Homo sapiens: one gene and its partners. The protein of the gene in region 1 interacts with the protein of each later gene in a pairwise test. Each region holds a gene or a part of one and is shown in the gene's direction. Other genes may lie near its edges.

Evidence for each region.
Region 2: the proteins of RALA (region 1) and RGL2 interact in a two-hybrid assay, tested with the Homo sapiens proteins (one study listed by BioGRID).
Region 3: the proteins of RALA (region 1) and USP33 interact in a two-hybrid assay, tested with the Homo sapiens proteins (one study listed by BioGRID).

The regions. Positions count from the first base shown.
Region 1 is NC_000007.14:39,689,460-39,696,575, forward strand, and holds part of RALA (ras-related protein Ral-A precursor), read left to right. Parts: intron 1-922; coding exon 923-1,131; intron 1,132-7,116. UniProt on the Homo sapiens protein: Multifunctional GTPase involved in a variety of cellular processes including gene expression, cell migration, cell proliferation, oncogenic transformation and membrane trafficking.
Region 2 is NC_000006.12:33,291,089-33,295,993, reverse strand, and holds the end of RGL2 (ral guanine nucleotide dissociation stimulator-like 2), read left to right. Parts: intron 1-234; coding exon 235-486; intron 487-571; coding exon 572-675; intron 676-782; coding exon 783-867; intron 868-948; coding exon 949-1,017; intron 1,018-1,231; coding exon 1,232-1,306; intron 1,307-1,927; coding exon 1,928-1,960; intron 1,961-2,058; coding exon of another isoform or gene 2,059-2,077; coding exon 2,078-2,199; intron 2,200-2,294; coding exon 2,295-2,390; intron 2,391-2,469; coding exon 2,470-2,581; intron 2,582-2,666; coding exon of another isoform or gene 2,667-2,687; coding exon 2,688-2,978; intron 2,979-3,449; coding exon 3,450-3,564; intron 3,565-3,680; coding exon 3,681-3,892; 3' UTR 3,893-4,340; downstream 4,341-4,905. UniProt on the Homo sapiens protein: Probable guanine nucleotide exchange factor. Putative effector of Ras and/or Rap. Associates with the GTP-bound form of Rap 1A and H-Ras in vitro.
Region 3 is NC_000001.11:77,756,853-77,764,527, reverse strand, and holds the start of USP33 (ubiquitin carboxyl-terminal hydrolase 33), read left to right. Parts: upstream 1-4,675; 5' UTR 4,676-4,885; intron 4,886-7,675. UniProt on the Homo sapiens protein: Deubiquitinating enzyme involved in various processes such as centrosome duplication, cellular migration and beta-2 adrenergic receptor/ADRB2 recycling.

The DNA.
Region 1 (7,116 bases):
GATGAATAGCATATGCAAGGTCCCTGCTCTGAGGGGTTAAATTCTAATGACAAGATACAGTCATAGCAAATAAATAAGAATGTATCAGATAATGAAAATATTTACAAGAGCTAATAAAAAACCCACAAATGTCTGTGTGTAAATGAATACATGCTAACAATGATATCAAAAGATAGGCCGGGCCTGGTGGCTCACACCTGTGATCCCAACACTTTGGGAGACCAAGGCAGTAGGATTATTTGAGCCCAGGAGTTCAAGACCAGCCTGGGCAACATAGTAAGGCCTTGTCTGCGTACATATACACATACTTATCATCTGCCTGCCTACGGTTTATCAAGGTATATTAAAGTGAGATTTATGGGGCTGACGATAGGAGTGGGAATGTAAAGTTGTTGAATTGTACTATTTAAAAAATCAAAAGTTTGGGAAGAAGTCTCATAAAGTTTAAGATTTGACTTTCTGTTGAGTAGTGTAAATCACTTTATTGACTTAGTTCATTTTAGAAAAAGAAAGGATTTAATGATACTTTCAGTGCTTACCAAAATATTGACCTTTAAGTTATTTCCACAGTTCTAGCATGAAAATTTATATTCAGAGTTACATAGAAAAAAGACTATTATAAATTTGGTAAAATATATGTGTAATAGTTTTTGCAGGTATTGTGTTTTAAGGAAGAAAAGCTGTTTTCAAGCTGTAAACAGCCTAGAGGTAATAACTCAGCCCTCTCTGTTTGCAAATGAGGAAACCAAGAAATTGTCTAAAATTAAAATTAGTGTAGTTTTTACCATTGGAGGAATCTGGGCAAAGGGTATACAGAACTCTTCTTGTACTATTTTGGCAGCTTCACATGAATTTATAATTATTTCAAAATAAGTTTTGAAACGTAATAATTAAAAAATTGGTGTGTTTTTATCTTTTCTAGTTTGTGGAGGACTATGAGCCTACCAAAGCAGACAGCTATCGGAAGAAGGTAGTGCTAGATGGGGAGGAAGTCCAGATCGATATCTTAGATACAGCTGGGCAGGAGGACTACGCTGCAATTAGAGACAACTACTTCCGAAGTGGGGAGGGGTTCCTCTGTGTTTTCTCTATTACAGAAATGGAATCCTTTGCAGCTACAGCTGACTTCAGGTATGTCCTAGAGTAATGTTGTTGCTTGTGACATACTATACAACAATTTCTTCCCCAGAAACAAGTAGACAACTAGAGGTTCTAACTTGTTAGTCTTTTACTCTGTCTCTAATTGTGTTTATTCCCTTTTTGATATCAGTATATGACTCTCTCTACTGTGTTATGTACACACAGTTAGGATACTTTGCATAGTCTTACAGCTCTCCCGGTGTCACCTGTATTGGAGTTTGATTTTGTGACAGCTTCAGTTACCCAGAGTCTCTATGAGTTACTGAAGTATTTCTCTTTAGTGTAAACTACTACTGCCATAACAGTTCATACTTAGAGCACATAATGGAGCTTACTCAGGTTTTACATCTTTCTCTGTTAGTCATGGTTTCTTAGCACCTATGTAATGCTCAGTAGGCACGTTGCCATCCTCCTCAAAATATAGATGCCCTGATAGCACAGACTGAATTTTTTGTTTCTTTTTCTTATTACATGGGAACCTTCAGAATGAATGAATTTTTAATAGAAATAATATCTCTGTAGATGGGCACATTAGATTGTTATATAATATTTTTTATTATTTATTGTTTAATTAAAATCTGGAATCCATTTGGTTTTAGAGGAGGTGGTTTTGGTGAAGGGGAAAGAGGTGCTCCTCTATATTTAAGAGGTATTTGGCATAGAGTTCTTGCGTGGTCTTGCAAATACTACATGCATAAATCAAGTGTTCTTTAATTAAATGATACATATTTTTATTTCTGTGTGAAGTGTCTTACTTGATTATGGAGGACAGAAAAGAAGCATGCAATGTATCCTCTATTTTCAAGATTCACACAGCCTAGATGAATATATAAGGCATTTAACCAAGAGCAAGTTAGTGACAAAGTAGGAACATGGGCAGTGGTTAGTGCAGAGGATCCGGGAGGGGAAAGAAGCTGGGAAACCTTCATGAAATAGATGAGCTTGAAGAAAAGAAGGATTTTCACACATAAGGAAAGAGGGCATTTCAGGTGGGTGAGCAAAAAACTAAACCAAGGCTTTTACAGAGCATTCCTTTTTATGCACACTTGAAAATCTCAAGAACTTATTCTAAGAGAGCATTCTTTGCAAAAAGCAGGTAATTGAGAAACTCTGAAGTATAGATTTATTCATAAAGTTTGTTGGTTTCTATGAGGAAGAAATTTCATATATGATGACATGCAAGGGATGGCAGACTCTGGTAGCTTGTAATTGTGGGAGACATGTTGAAAGTTATATAAATGCCAATGCTTATTCATTCAGCAGATATTTGAGTGCTTATAATGTAGCAAGTCTTGTTCTAAGTAATGGAATAAATGTTATCACCATAGTCACCAAAGTCAAAGTGATATTTCAAGAGAATAAGGTATTTTCATGCAAGAATCTTGGGCTATTACTATTATAGAAAATAAGGATGATTCATTACTCTTAGGGCGTACCTCCAATGCCTCTGCCATAAATAAAAATGACCCTAGTGACTCACCAACAATATTGTTGGTGAAAGGCTTTTTTGAAAAGGTCTGAATGGTTACAGTGGGCACTCCACGTGGTCTAAACTGCAAGAGTAGCAAAAATAAATAAAACAGTAGCATAAATATCAGCTCCTCCCTTTAGCCTTCCTGGTCATCTCTGTGATCCACAAAATCCATTGCTTCCTCGTCTATATATGCAATGTCCTTGCTGCAGCTCCAGTATCACACTTAACACCTATTCCTTTCCTGTCTCAGTATCCCCAGTACCTATATATGCCATAGTTCATAGCATATAATCTATAGTAAGTACATGTTTAGTAAACATTTGTCTTGATTCAAAAACCTTTACCTTTTGGTTTTTACTTTCCTATGTCAAAAATGAAGTTGGACCAGATTGTACTTCCCTATTCTGAAATTCTGTAATAGCCTCTAAAACTGTATTTAAAGGGAGTATTATATTAAGCAAAATGTATATGAAGTTTATACCGTAGAATTACTTTTCTCTGACATCCAGCAAAGTTGCTAGTAAAACCAATCTATTAACTCTAAAAAAATAACATCTTCTCACCTCGGAACCCAGTAGGTCCAGGTTTTCTACAGCCGTGTTTCTGCCAGCATCAATCACACTATGCTTTTTCAGTATTGGTTTCCCTGCAGCACCTGACTCAGAGTAGCTTAGTAGGTATTTATTAAGAAATAAATTAATGACTATATATACACACATATGACCAGAGGTGCTAGAGTTACAAACACCTGAGTCAGTCTCACCTTCCAAGTGGTGAGACTGAGTGGCAGGTTAGTTGTTGTTAACAGCTTCATTCAGTGGCGATCATTAGAAAGTCAGGAAACAACAGATGCTGGAGAGGATGTGGAGAAATAGGAATGCTTTTACACTGTTGGTGAGAGTGTAAATTAGTTTAACCATTGTGGAAGACAGTGTGGCGATTCCTCAAGGATCTAGAATAGAAATACCATTTGACCCAGCGATCCCATTACTGGGTATGTACCCAAAGGATTATAAATCATGCTGCTATGAAGACACATGCACATGTATGTTTACTGCGGCACTACTCACAATAGTAAAGACTTGGAATCAACTCAAATGTCCATCAATGATAGACTGAATTAAGAAAATATGGCACATATACACCATGGAATACTATGCAGCCATAAAAAAGGATGAGTTCATGTCCTTCGCAGGGACATGGATGAAGCTGGAAACCATCATTCTGAGCAAACTGTCACAAGGACAGAAAACCAGACACTGCATATTTTCACTCATAGGTGGGAATTGAACAATGAGAACACTTGGACACAGGGCAGGGAACATCACACACTGGGGCCTATCGTGGGGTGGGGGACTGGGGGAGGGATAGCATTAGGAGAAATACCTAATGTAAATGACGAGTTGATGGGTGCAGCAAACCAACATGGCACATGTATACCTCGGTAACAAACCTGCACGTTGTGCACATGTACCCTACAACTTAAAGTATAATTAAAAAAAGAAAAAAGAACAGCATTCAGGCCGTCATTCACAAAGGAAACTGGTTAAGAAAGTCACAGCACGCCCTAGAAAAAGATTGTGATTGGCCAAAATGCCCTTCACAAGTACTGCATATATTTAATAGTAATCATGGTGAAAGTTGACATGGTTTTTGCAAGAAATCATGTGAGTGGTAGGAAGCATCATAGCACTGTGTAGTGCTGTACGTCTTAGCCTGCATCACCCAGATACCGTGCTTGTTTGACTTCTAAAAGGATGTTTAAGACAAATACAAATCAGTGAAGAATGGAGTTTACTTTCTCTGTGGCCCATAGTCTGTGCGGCCTATAGTCTATTCACATTAGAAAAACTGAGAGTTCAGGTCCAAAGAACTTCCTATGAGTGTTGAATGTGTTAGAATGTTTGCTACATCGTGAGTAATCAAGTGAATGAAGTAATAATAATAGTAACACTACCTCATACTCATGCAGCACTTACCAGGACCAGACTGTTCTAAGCATTCACATATATAAATTAGTTTCTCAAACAACACTGTGAGATAGATACTACTGGATTTCATAGATTATAAGATGTACATTTTAACATCTCTGAGGGCTATGTCTTATGATATGGCACCATACAGTTATAATTGCCAGCAGTTTTTCTTAGAGTCCATAAAATAAGATTGAGAACTAGTGATGTCTTAAATTTGACTTTTTTTAAAAAAGTGACATCCAAATTTATAAATGAAGAAACAGAAATGCAGGGAGGTTAAGTGGCTTGCCCCAGGTTGTGCAGTCAGGAATAGCATAGAGTTAAAATGCAGGAGGTCTGCCTTTGTATTCTCTTGGTATCTACTGTACAAGTTCATTGTGTGCTCTGGAGTTGGATTTCTCAGTCCTGGTTCTACTTAAGTGTGTCTCTGAGCAAGTTAACATAATTTCTGTGTGCATCAGTTTCCTCATCTGTAGGACAAGAATAATAATGATACTAACTTCATAGGTTTAGGTAAGGATTAAATGAGAAAATGTATGTAAGTCCTGAAAGCAGTGTTTGGCACATTGTGAGCGCTGAGTACAATGTTAGTGGTAGTAGTGTGGTGGTGGTATTTAGGAAACATTGTCTAAGAAGCACAGAATAGAATAATCTGAAAATAAGGCAAGAAGATTTTTCCCAGTTTTTCAAGCATCACTATAAAATGCCTGCAGCCAGGTACAGTGGCTCACAGCAGTAATCCCAGCAATTTGGGAGGCTGAAGCAGGCAGATCACTTGAGTTCAGGAGTTCAAGACCAGTCTGGACAACATGGTGAAACCCCATCTCTACAAAAAAAAGAAAAAAAGAAAAAAAAATTAGCTGGGTGTGGTGGCGCGTGCCTATAGTATAGGTGTGCTACTCGGGAAGTTGAGGTAAGAGAATTGCTTGAGCCCAGGAGGTTGAGGCTGCAGTGAGCCGTGATCATGCCACTGCACTACAGCCTGGGTGACAGAGTAAGACCCTGTCTCAAAAAAAAGAAAAAAAAAAAAAGTCTGCAAAACCAAGTGTACTTTGCTGATTTGCCATTCTAATATCCCTTTAATTTTCTCATTTTCTCTTATTCTAAAATATAGTCGTCCCTCAGTATCAGGGCAGGGCAGGGATTGGTTCCAGGACTCCTTATGGATACCGACATTCATGGATAGTCAAGTCTCTTCTATAAAATGGTGTGGTATTTGCAGATAGCCTATGCACATCCTCCCATGTACCTTAAGTCATCTCTAGATTACTTTTAATAGCTAATACAGTGTAATTGCTATGTAAATAGTTGTTATTCTGCATTTTAAATTTTGTTTTACTTTTTATTGTGGCATTTTTTTGGTTTTTGGTTTTTTTTTTTGAGACAGGATCTTACTCTGTCATCCAGGCTAGAGTACAGTGATGTAATCATGGCTCACTGCAGCCTTGAACTCCTGGGCTCAAGCGATCTTCCTGAGTAGCTAGGACTACAGGTGCACACTACTACACCCAGCCAAATTTTTTTTCTATTTTTTATAGATATGGGGGTCTCACTGTGTTGCCTGGGCTGGTATTGAACTCCTAGCCTCAAGCAATCCTCCTGCCTCAGCCTCCCAAAGTGCTGGGTTTACAGGTATGAGCCACTGCACCTGGCTGTTTTTGGGGTTTTAAAAGATATTTTTTATTTGCAGTTAGTTGAGTCTGTGGATACAGAGGGCTGACTTTACTTACGTTCCTATAGCTTCAACAGCTCTTAATAATTTCAAAGGAGAGGCATTTTTAAGGTAGCAAATTATTGAACCTAAGTCTTACAGATTTCCTTTTGTTTTTTGATTTTACAAAAAAACATTTCTTCCAGTAGATTAATAATGAGCTAACATTTTTTGAATATTTACTCTGTCGATGCAGTTATAAGCACTTCACATTTAACCCTCATAGCAACTTTATAAGGAAGGTATAATTGTTGGCTCCATTTTATAGATGAGGAAACTGAGGTAAGAAGTACTTTGCACTTTGCTCAGACTTACATGACTAGGAAGAGCAGAACCATGGTACTTTAAAATTGATGACACTTTCACAGTGGATAACTTACCTCTCAATGCAAAATCTATGCTCAAGGTCTGACTTCCAGTAATTTCTGGCACATTTGGGTTTTGAAAAACAATTGGTGGGACCCTTGATATGATGCAATAAGAATAGCACTTTCTAAATCTTCCTCCCAAGAACCAATAACCCTACTTTAATCATGAGGAAAACATCTGACAAATCCCAATTGAGAGACATTGTACAAACTGCCAGCCAGCAGTCCTCAAAACTATTAAGGTCATCAAAAACAAGGAAAGTCTGAGAATTACCATGGCCAACTCAAGGCTAAAGAGACATGACGAAACTAAATGTCATGTGGCAACCTGGATGGGATCCTGGAACAGAAAAAGGATGTCAGGCAAAAAGCAAGCACATTTGAATAAAGTTTGGACCTTAGTTGCTAATACTGTATCGATATTGGTTCATTAATTGTGATTTGTGT
Region 2 (4,905 bases), on another chromosome or scaffold:
ACCCCTTACTAACCTCTCCTTGACTCCAGATCCTTTCCTTGCTTCCACCCCTTCCTGATCCAGCTCCTAGCCTCCTCCACCTACCATTTTGATTCTCCCCTTTTCCCTTTGGTCGTTACCCTTCAAACCCTGTGCCCCTCTGGTTCCTTGGCCACCTGAGATCCTCAGATCCCTGATATTGGAAGGCTGACCTCACTTGACTATGAACTTTAACCTCTGACCTCTACCCTGCAGGAACTTTTTCTCAATTTGATCCCCTCTCAGTGCCTGGGAGGCCTGTGGGGTCACAGAGACCGGCCAGGACATTCTCACCTCTGCCCATCTGTCCGAGCTACTGTCACACAGTTTAACAAGGTGGCAGGGGCAGTGGTTAGTTCTGTCCTGGGGGCTACTTCCACTGGAGAGGGACCTGGGGAGGTGACCATACGGCCACTCCGTCCCCCACAGAGGGCCCGGCTCCTGGAGAAGTGGATCCGCGTGGCAGAGGTGAGAGAGAAGATTGCCCTACGGTTTGTGGCCATGGAATGGAGAGGCCTCCCATAGCCTTAGCTCTCTTCTTTGACCCCCACAGGAGTGCCGGCTGCTCCGAAACTTCTCTTCAGTTTATGCCGTGGTGTCAGCCCTGCAGTCCAGCCCCATCCACAGGCTTCGGGCAGCCTGGGGGGAAGCAACCAGGTGCGGAGGCTGAGGCATTGGACTGGGGTGGGGGTTCCTCAGAAGGCGGGGAAGAGGGGGTGACAGAGCCAGGCCTGTCCTCAGGGCCACTTTTCTCCCTTCCCCAGGGACAGCCTCAGAGTCTTTTCCAGCCTCTGCCAGATTTTCTCCGAGGAGGATAATTATTCCCAGAGTCGGGAGCTGCTCGTGCAGGTGAGAGCCTGGTTTGTGGCATTCCCACCTCTCCTTGTTCCCTACTGCTCCCCCATGTCTCTTTTATTTTGTCACCACCAGGAGGTGAAGCTGCAGTCTCCTCTGGAGCCACACTCCAAGAAGGCCCCGAGGTCTGGCTCCCGGGGTGGGGTGAGTGACTAGCGGGGTGGTGGGCGTGGGGGTGGTGATTATGAAGGGGTGAGGAGTATGTTTTGGGGGAGCAGCCTGAAGGATGGGTAAGGGAGGCACAGAGGGGTGAGGAGAATGAAATCTGTTCTCTGAGGCAATGAGGAGGGCAAGTGCGGAGGGATGGAGGGCCCTCACGTCAATGGCAGGCACTTCTGACCCTGACCCCTGACTTCAGGGTGTGGTCCCATACCTTGGCACCTTCCTGAAGGACCTTGTGATGCTGGATGCAGCCTCCAAGGATGAGTTGGAGGTCAGTGGTGTGTGTGTGTGTCATTGCAATGATGTAACAAGTGGGCTGCAGGGTCGGACAGACCCCCCCGCCCCTTGCAAGGGGCTGTAAGGCACAAATAGCTGAGTGTGGGACAGAGCCAGATCTGTTTCTGTGCCAAGTCGCCTCAGTGATCTGTAAATGGGAAACTAGAAATAGCATCTACATTGATCTGTTATAAGGGTTAAATGAATTTGTATTTGTCAAGTGCTTAGAACGTGCCTGAAACGTAAGCACATCTAGGTTTTGTGATGGGCTCCTGCTCTATTGCTAGAGTTTGTTAAATAAACAAATACTGAGACCTTGGACAAGTTCCTTATCCTCTCTGGATAAGGAATCCTGTCGAATTGGATACTATCCAGTCCTCTCATCTGCAAAGCAGACTCGTTGTCTACCTGAGAAATTCAATTTAAAGGGTCAAGTGGAGTGCTTAGGCCATGATAGATTGAGGAGGAAGGCAGGGAGGGATCGAAGAGTCAGAGAGGCTGGAGGGAAGTGGTTGTGAGTTGGATGTGGCTGTGTGTGTTTAAGAGAGGGGATATTCTCTCTCTGTGGCCGGAAGGTAGGGTTGGAACTTTCACCCCATCCCCATTTTCCTCGCAGAATGGATACATCAATTTTGACAAGCGGAGGAAGGTGAGCGGAGTGTCTGGGCTGGATGCTGGACTTCCCTATCCATGTTCCAGGAAGGGGAGGGGGAAAAGTCAGGGGTCCCTGAGTTTTGGCTCCTGCAGTTTGAGGGCTCCTTCCCAGGAGTTTGCAGTCCTTTCTGAGTTGCGACGGCTCCAGAATGAATGTCGTGGCTATAACCTCCAACCTGACCATGATATCCAGAGGTGGCTACAGGGGCTCCGGCCACTGACAGAGGCTCAGAGGTGACTGGCGGGTGAGGTTGGGACTCCAGGGTTCTGGCCAGGTGTGGGGGATTGGTGTCATGTCCTGAGCTCTGCCTATTGCCCCCCTAACCCAGCCATCGTGTATCCTGTGAGGTGGAGCCACCTGGTTCCAGTGACCCTCCTGCCCCACGGGTGCTTCGGCCAACATTGGTCATCTCGCAGTGGACAGAGTGAGAGATTCACTGGCTGGGGGGTGGTTTCTTGGGACTTCCACTTTTCTCTGATCCTCCCAATCTCCTGCCACTGCAGGGTTTTGGGCTCTGTTGGGGTCCCTACCCCGCTTGTGTCCTGTGACCGGCCCAGTACTGGGGGAGATGAGGCGCCTACAACTCCTGCTCCTCTGCTGACTCGGCTGGCCCAGGTGAGCTCTGCTCCTGACTCTGACCTTGACGCTGACCCTCACTCTGTAAATGTTTCTTCCTTAAACCTCCCTGCCTTCATGCCAGTCCCATGTTGTTTGTTCCTAGCACATGAAGTGGCCATCTGTCTCGTCACTAGACTCTGCCTTGGAAAGCAGTCCATCCCTGCACAGTCCAGCTGACCCCAGCCACCTCTCCCCACCAGCCTCCTCCCCTAGGCCTTCTCGAGGTCACCGCCGCTCAGCCTCCTGTGGCTCCCCGCTGAGTGGGGGTGCAGAAGAGGCCTCCGGGGGGACTGGATATGGGGGAGAGGGATCTGGGCCAGGGGCCTCTGATTGCCGTATCATCCGAGTCCAGATGGAGTTGGGGGAAGATGGCAGTGTCTATAAGAGCATTTTGGTGAGGGAGCCTTGGGATGGAGTTGGGGTGAAGGATGGTGTCTTGTTGGACTATAAATGTTGTCTGAGGTTTGGGCAGCCAAATGGAATTGAATGTAGTTTTAATTTTGACCTTTGGTTTTGGCAGTTATGTTTTATTTTTAATTTTATCTTCTAAACTCTAGTCTTCAATAGAAGCTGAAATTTGTTTTATTTTGATGGCTATTTTGCATTAGTTGCTACACCTTAAACTTTTGGTCGCCGTGTTAAAATTTCAGAATCAACAGCAGTTTCCCCACAGGGAAGCAGCTCTGTTTCACTGGGCACCATGTGGGCTGGCTTATGGGGTATAGGAAGCCACCATATTGGGTTTTCCTGTTCATTTTAAAGCCTTGGACACAAGTAACATTTTGTGGTTGGGTTCAGTGGCTGAGGGTAGAAGGATGGGAAATCATGGCTGATTGATTGCTCTTTTGGTCTCCTGTTCTGCCAGGTGACAAGCCAGGACAAGGCTCCAAGTGTCATCAGTCGTGTCCTTAAGAAAAACAATCGTGACTCTGCAGTGGCTTCAGAGTATGAGCTGGTACAGCTGCTACCAGGGGAGCGAGGTCAGAGGCCATGAGGGAAAGGCAGACTCGGGAGGAGAGTGGAGTACTTCCACATCTGGGCGGCTGTGGGGGGAACAACTGTGTGTGTGCTTTACATCCATCCCCTGAACCTTCAGAGCTGACTATCCCAGCCTCGGCTAATGTATTCTACGCCATGGATGGAGCTTCACACGATTTCCTCCTGCGGCAGCGGCGAAGGTCCTCTACTGCTACACCTGGCGTCACCAGTGGCCCGTCTGCCTCAGGAACTCCTCCGAGTGAGGGAGGAGGGGGCTCCTTTCCCAGGATCAAGGCCACAGGGAGGAAGATTGCACGGGCACTGTTCTGAGGAGGAAGCCCCGTTGGCTTACAGAAGTCATGGTGTTCATACCAGATGTGGGTAGCCATCCTGAATGGTGGCAATTATATCACATTGAGACAGAAATTCAGAAAGGGAGCCAGCCACCCTGGGGCAGTGAAGTGCCACTGGTTTACCAGACAGCTGAGAAATCCAGCCCTGTGGGAACTGGTGTCTTATAACCAAGTTGGATACCTGTGTATAGCTTCCCACCTTCCATGAGTGCAGCACACAGGTAGTGCTGGAAAAACGCATCAGTTTCTGATTCTTGGCCATATCCTAACATGCAAGGGCCAAGCAAAGGCTTCAAGGCTCTGAGCCCCAGGGCAGAGGGGAATGGCAAAATGTAGGTCCTCGCAGGAGCTCTTCTTCCCACTCTGGGGGTTTCTATCACTGTGACAACACTAAGATAATAAACCAAAACACTACCTGAATTCTACTCCCCTGTCCTTGCAGTACATATGAACTGGCTGCTATGAGTGGGGGTGGGGAATTGGCTGAAGGTAGATGCCATGGAACAGGAAGGGGCACAATGTTTTCTGTCCCCATGAACAGAGCAAAAAGTGAGGTATTGGTGAAAAAAGTTTCCTCAGAACAGTTTCTCTCCAGTAACCTCTCTACCACTGGTCCCTTGCTGCAAATGTGTATAAAACAATTTTAGGACAAGGAAATGGCAGAACAACTTTATGGACAACATATAAACTTGGGAGGACTTATAATACCATAAAGCATTACATGCTGGGATTTTAAGTCAGTTTAAAGCTACATTCAAGCAAATTCTAGGAAGACAGAGGCTGAAAAGTACTAATAGAGATGCCAGGGCTGTTGGCAAGGAGGGTAACCACATTTCATCCTGGGGCCTCAGGTTAGAGAACTGTGTATTCTTTTTCAATTAAACCGACATTCCTAGCAATATGGTATGTTGCAAATGCCCTTCCAAAAGAATCATGCCAACCAAGATGAGGGAGAGTTAAGGGTTGTATATACAGGCAAGAAGTAGGTTT
Region 3 (7,675 bases), on another chromosome or scaffold:
CTTGAAAATGTCTGTCCAAAAGGACTGTCAGTTTGGGTGAGAGGATCCCTGGAAATCAGGGGACTAAGGACTAGGTCATAGGTGGCCATCCAGAAGATACATTGCTGAGCCAAGAGACTGTAGGTGAGGGTTCCAGTGATGGACTCCATGAGAGAAAGAGTCAGCTTCAGACCTCAGCCACTCCCAAAAGTCACTGACTGCTAAAACTGTGTCAGTCCAGAAAGATCCTTTCTGTTCTTGTCTTCTTCAACTGTGGAGGGGCACAAAACAAAAAGCCAATAAGCCAGGGAGAAGGGAGAACAAGGTAGAGGAAATGGCAGAGAATTTTTGATATTGCACTGGACAGGATTTTTTTCTAATACTAGGGGCAAAAGGCCACTTTTTTTTATTACTAGAAAATTACTGGAGGACTTTTTTTTTTTTTTTTTCTGACAGAGAGGCTCTTGCTCTGTCACCAAGCTGGAGTACAGTGGCACGATTATAGCTCACTCACTGCAGTCTCAAACTCCTGGGCTCAAGGGATCCTCCTGCCTCAGCCTCTGGAGTAGCTGTACTACAGGCATGTGCCATCGTATCCTGGTATTATTTTTTAAAATTTTTTGTAGAGGCAGAATTTCACTTTGTTAACCAGGCTGGTCTCGAACTCCTGGGCTCAACTGATCCTCCCACCTTGGCTTTGAAAAGTGTTGAATTATAGGCATGAGCCAACACACCTGGCCTGGTGGACTTTTTAATTATGTGACAGTGAGCGGAAAAGCAAAAATGCTTTGCCTAAGATTTGTTTTAAAATATATTTTTCTTTTCTTTCTTTCTTTTTTTTTTGTTCTTGTTTTTGTTTTTTGAGAGACAGGGTCTCACTCCTATTGCCCAGGCTGGAGAGGGGTGGCACAGTCATGGCTCATGACAGTCTTAATTTCCTGGGCTCAAGTGATTCTCTCACCTCACCCTCCATAGTAGCTGGGACTACAGGCATGATCCACCATGCCCGGCTAATTGTTGCAATTTTTTGTAGAGACAGGGTTTCGCCATGTTGCCCAGGCTGGTCTTGAACTCTGGTCTCAAGCAGCCGCAGCTTTCCAAAGTGTTGGGATTACAGGCATGAGCTACTGCGCCCTGCCCAGAAACATATTTTATTTTACTTTGAGACAGAGTTTTGCTCTTGTTGCCCAGGCTGGAATGCAGTGGTGCCATCTCAGCTCACTGCAACCTCCGCCGCCCGGGTTCAAGCGATTCTCCTGCCTCAGCCTCCCGAGTAGCTGGGATTATAGGTACCTGCACCACACCCAGCTAATTTTTGTATTTTTGATAGAGATGGAGTTTCATCATGTTGGCCAGGCTGGTCTCGAACTCCTGATCTCAGGTGATCCGCCCAACTCGGCCTTCCAAAGTGCTGGGATTACAGACGTGAGCCACTGGGCCCGGCCCAAAGACATATTTTAAAGCCCCAGCTTAAATCAGAGTTTCTCAATAGTGGCATTAATGATGTCTGGGACTCTCTTGTAATATCAATGCAAAGGAATGTTACTAATTCTTTCTCCCACCAATCCTCTTCAGAAATATTGCCAACTATCCACTCAGGGGACAAAACCACCCCCAGTTGAGTGCCAACAAGTTTTTGAGTCCTTCAATGCTAGGCTCTGGGAATATTGTGAATAAGATAAATACTCACTGCTCCCATTGAGGAGTTCAGGAGAGACAGGCAAAAAATTAAGTATACCAAAAAATTTAAGATAATTACAAATTATAATACATTCTCTAAAGGAAGCAAGCAGGATGCTGAAACCGGAAATAATGGGGTAAAGAGTTCTGTATTAAACAGAGAATATCTAGGTAGGAGTTAGCCAGGTGAAGGAAGGATAGAGGTTGGGAGTATCTGTAAAATTGTCTCTAAGGAAACAGCATTTACAAAGCTTTATTTAGTCTCAGGTACATAAGCACCAAAATGTATATTTTCTACGTTGCTATTTTTTACTTGCCATTACTCAGTTACAAAAATGAGAAGGTATTTGTTTTTGATAGGACCATTCAATTGTCTTCCTCCCTCCCTGTTTGTATCTCTCCTTCTTTTCTTCTTTTTCTTCCTACTCTTCATTTCTTCTTTTTTCTCCCTTTCATTAGAAGAGACTTCTTTTCTTCTTTTTCTTCCTACTCTTCATTTCTTCTTTTTTCTCCCTTTCATTAGAAGAGACTTCAGTACCTGGCCTGATGCACAACTCTAAGTCATACTATTTACATTATATTCTCCATGAACGGCACCTCTAGAATTCTGTTCCAGAATCAGTATGACTCAGCTGGGTGTCCACACACCCTCTAGAATTCTACTCCAGAATCAGTGACTCAGCTGGGTGTCCACACTTTGGAATGTATAATCTATTCTCTCAAGGGGAAGTTGATTGATTTATTTCCTAATGATAGTGTTCTTCCTTATAAGCCATTATAAGCCATCAGGAGATATTGTTTGAAGAAAAGTAAAAGATAAGCAATCTGGACTGTGGGATGAAAGGATAAACACCCAAGGGTGGGAGGCAGGAATTCACGGAAGTTAAAAGTGGGAGAGGTATTACATTATATTCTATCAGAGTGAGTTTGTTTTGTGAGAACTTGTCCACTGCAAGGACTTCACTTGGTGTCCACCTGAGAAGTACTTGCCTACTATTATCTACGCACTAGTCTCAAACTCCCGATCTCAGGTGATCTGCCCTGCTGGGCCTCCCAAAGTGCTGGGATTACAGGCATGAGCCACCGCACCTGGTGATCTTGAACAGCCTTGTCAGTTGTCTTCCTTGCATTGACACTGCCCTAGAACTCCTCCAGGACAGGTAAGCCCAGAGAGAACCTTGGTTACTAAGCAGGATGGTGGTGGGACTTGGAGGCTGAATTGAATTTGCTAGGACACTGTAAGAACAGAATACCCCTGATACATTTTCAATAGAAGAATTTCTGGGGAAGTGACTTTTGTCTATTTTTCTATTTGGTCGCCTGTTTTTTTAAAAATTGATTTCTGGAAATACATATGGAGTTGAGCCCCTTTTCAATTATATGTATTTCAAATAAATTCTATTTGCTGGCCTAACTTTTCTTCTCTCTCTGTCTCTCTTCTTTTTTTTTCTTCTGTAGATCTCCTCTGTGGACAGCTTTTTTTTTTTTTTTTTTTTTTTTTGAGACAGGGTCCTCCTCTGTTGCCCAGGCTGGAGTTCAGTGGCTCTATCTTGGCTCACTGCAACCTCTGCCTCCTGGGTTCAAGTAATTCTCCTGCCTCAGCCTCCTGAGTGGCTGGGATTACAGGCACGCGCCACCACACCTGGCTAATTTTTGTATTTTTCGTAGAGATGGGGGTTTCACCATGTTGGTCAGGCTGGTCTTGAACTCCTGACCTCAGGTAATCCACCCGCCTTGGCCTCCCAAAATGCTGGGATTACAGGTGTGAGGCTCTGTGCCCGGCTGGAGACAACTTTTCATCTCCTAACGGCATCTTTTTTTTTTTTTCCCAGAGAATATCTCACTTTGTCACCCAGGCTGAAGTGCAGTGGCACAATCATGGCTCACTGCAACCTCAAACTCCTGGTCTCAAGTGATCCTCCACTCTTAGCCTCTTGAGTAGCTGGGACTACAGGTGCCTGTCACCATGCCTGGCGAATTTTTGTATTTTTAGTAGAAATGGGGTTTCGCCATGTTGCCCAGGCTAGTCTCGAACTCAAGTGATTCACCCGCCTCGGCCTCCCAAAGTGCTGGGATTACAGGCATGAACCATGGCGCCTGCCTGTGAAACTTCTATTCTGTGAAATTTCTATTCTCCTCAGTGAACCGAGGATAGGCAATCATTTGTGGTGCAAATTGAGGCCTGAGTGTCAATCCCTACCTAGAATTTTGTATCATGGTTAATTTATTTCATTTTTACCATAAAAATAAGTAGAAGCTTTTATATTTTCTACCTATTCCAATGGAGACTGAGCATCTTGCATGATACTTTGGTACATGCTCCCATTTTGGAGACCAAAAAGTCAGATGTCATGAGACAGATTGAAACTGGCAATTTTAACAATTTTTTATTAATATAACCTTTTTTATTCATAGATTTGAACCTCAATCGAGTGCATTTTAACAGTTACATAATTAGAAGGCAGGACTCCTTCCATGCTCCAGGCATTAAGCAGATACTAAGGTTTCAATAAATATTTGATTTGATCCTCTTGATTTTAGCCTAAGGAGAAAATGGTGAGATAAATTTCTTCTTTGCATAGGTGGAAAAGGGAAACATAATTGCTTTCAGAGAATCTAGGTCCTAAGAAGTTGGGGGAAGAAAGATGAAAGGAGGAAATACAATGTTGAATTGGGATAAGTTAAGTCTAATATTTCTTTGCTCAAGTTTGGAAACCTGAGGCCCTTCAGTGGCCAGCCTTAATGCAGTTTTTGTAATGCATCGAGACAAGACCTTATAATGGTCGTAGTGTGTGACTGTGAAAGAGAAGGAGAAAACATGTGAAAAACGAAAAAAAAAAAGCTCACAGCCTCAAACTGCTGCACATACCCTGTACAGTTAGTTTGCAGTCAGAGTAGGGAGCCGGCCTGGGTCCCCGCACCTGGGCCTGGCTCCCGTGGCCCCGCCCCTGGGGCGGGCTCCCATCGAGGCTCCGCCCCCACCTCCCCTATCGCCGGAGACGCCTGCGGCGGCCCCGGAGACACCGGAAGGAGCCGCGGCTGCTGCGGGAAGTGGCCAGTTCAGGAGGCGGACCCCCCGAGGGCAGCGCTGCGGGGCCGTTTTCCGGCCCTCCTGACGCGACACTGCCCCTCTCCGAGAGCTGAGAAGGAAAAGAGGAGCTTGCGGAGGTGCGGCTGCAGGCCGTTGTTGGTCGAGCTGGCGGGTCCCGCGGGCCAGGCCGTGGAGGTGAGCGCGGCGCTGCTGGGAGGGGCGCGGGGCCCAAGGGCGTTTCGCTCGCGTCCGGGGTCCGGTCTCTGTTCTCGCTTCCGCGCGCTGGGGTTGCGGCCGCTGCAGCAGCCTCTTTTTCTTGGTCCTGGGTGGCGGCGGGTTCGCGGGCGGGAAGAAGGCCTTGGCCCCTCGGTGCTCTGCGTTGCAGAGATAATCTAGTGGTCGCCCTGTCAACGGTCGGTGGAGGATGGGAACCGGTCGTTGATTTGAGGAAGGGTCCTCAGGGGTTCTTCCCTGGAAGCGGGAGGTGCAGGTGAGCCCGAGAAGCGGGGGCTCTGCTCCCTTCCTCGGTCTCCCCACTCAGGCTTGCCAGTCCCTCTCAGTGGGTGACTGAAAGCCCTGCAGCGCGCCGGCTCCTGGGTTCTGGTTTCGCTTTTCGGCGCTGTTGAGGGGGCCGGCCCCGTTGTTTGTTGTTGTGAACGGAAAAACCGAGGTGTCATCGTCCCTGGAATTTTTCTTCGACCAATGTTTGATCTTGACTGAGAGGTTACCCCTTACCTTCTGTCCATCTGCAGCCTTTGTTTGGATGAAAGATCCATAGTGTGTGGTTTCCCAGACCTTTACTTATATTTCTCGTATACAAAACGCTCTTCATTTGAATATTTACAGGGTTTTACGTTGAGCTCTTGGACGATGAGATTTTCCTGGGTGTTTTGCACTCAAGTACCGTTGGAGTTTACATTCTCATAGAATCAGTATTAGGCCTGGAAAATTGAGCCAGAGGGTGAAATTCTGGCAGGAGCATAGACTTAAATTGAAGGTGAATTTTACCGTAACGATCTCTAGGCCTTTTGCTTAATAACTATGTGGATGTAGAGAATTTTTAAGTTTAATCAGATTATTTTTCCTTTAAGAAAAACGTGTTACAAAAAGTAACAAGGCCGTCCTAGTTCCGTTTTTCCTACTGTCTTATTTGGAAAGGTCTGACCAAGTCACATTATCGTCATAGGCTATTTGATTTGAGCATAATACAAATATTGTTAGTGAATTCATACTATTATAAATAAGAGAGAAAATAGGAATCTTAAAGACAATGCTAGTTTTATGAAAAAATAATAGAAATAGTTACACAATGCTAGGAGCTTTGTATTATTTCATTACTTTGGCAGGATTGAAAGAAAGGTCAGGGCTGGGCACGGTGGCTCACGCCTGTAATCCCAGCACTCTGGGAGGCCGACGATCACGAGGTCAGGAGATCGAGACCATCCTGGGTAATACGGTGAAACCCCGTCTGTACTAAAAATTACAAAAAATTAGCCGGGCATGGTGGCAGGTGCCTGTAGTCCCAGCTACTTGGGAGGCTGAGGCAGGAGAATGGCGTGAATCCGGGAGGCAGAGCTTGCAATGAGCCGAGATCATGCCACTGCACTCCAGCCTGGGCAGCAGAGCGAGACTCTGTCTCAAAAAAAAAAAAAAAAAAAAAAAGGACAGTACAAAAAATATTATTGGAATAAAATATTTGACCTGATATGTGCAAGAGGGATAGTCTACTTAAGATTGCTTCCTATTTATGATCTGGTTTATGGCCAGTTTCACTTTTTTTCTGTCTTTTCTGAACTTTTTATAACTTAACAGTAAGCAAGTCTTTTTATATAACTGCAGTTTAATGACATTAGATTGTAGTAAATAGGTGATTTTAAATATTTGAAATTCAGAATTGAGATGATAATTCTTACATTTATGTAGTAGTATTAGAATTTTCTGTGACCTTTCACTTACACAGTCTTACTTGATCCTCATGCCAGTCCTCTGAGCTCCGAATGCCAAGAAATAAAGTCTTTCCCCATGACAGAAACATTTCAAGATTGTGTAAGGATCAGAATTTCGTAAAGCCTGAAATAATGTTGCCAAAGCAGCTTTTGATACAGATTGGGAATTCAGATAGATTAAGATTGGAGCACTGTGAACTATAACATATGACAAGACTGTGGACTCTTCACAAGAAAATGAAGTACATAAAATGCTGAAAGATTTTTGGTGAGAAATGTGAAATGTAACCATTTCTAAAAAGGAAGGGAATAAGTAACAGCTCTATTTAGTGTAGTTTTTAAACTTTAAAAGTGTACATGTGTCTGCAGGAACATTTTGATAAGTGGGAAAACTCCAAAGAGTGTGAGATGAGTACAGTTGCTTTTAACTATCTATAAAAAGGCACATGAATTATGTGCTATATTGTATACTGAGAACTAGTCTTTAAGAAACAATATGTATATCAAAATAAATCATGCTGTCAAATGTTCAGAAGGTTAAGTTAGGTCAATATTTTGAGTCTACCAGGACAAGGCCCTTTGGAAAACAAAAAGAATGAAACGTGGTTTCTGCCTTCAAAGAACTTGTAGTCAAGTGAGGCAATTTTTTACACAACAGTAAATGCCTTATGAGTTTTTATAAAAGTTCCTTAGGAATTTAGGTGAGGTAGACATTACTTGTGATTGGGGCTTGGTGAAGGTAGTATTTGAGATGAGTGAGCTTTGAAAGGTAAATATTGGAGGATATTTGTAATGTGAACAGATTAATGAGCTCCTTGAAGGGTACAACTTACATTTGAGAAAACATCGGTAGAACAATGTGGCTGATATTCATAGTTTATGTAAGTTAATAATAGATAAAGAAGACAAATTATGAAAGACTTCACTGAAGGTGTTTGATCAGAAGAGGTATGTGATCCACATGAAAGGAAAATGAGCTGTAACTGTTAGAAGATTGAGACTGGAAGACTGCTGGGGTGGCTTTATGTTAAGCTAGATT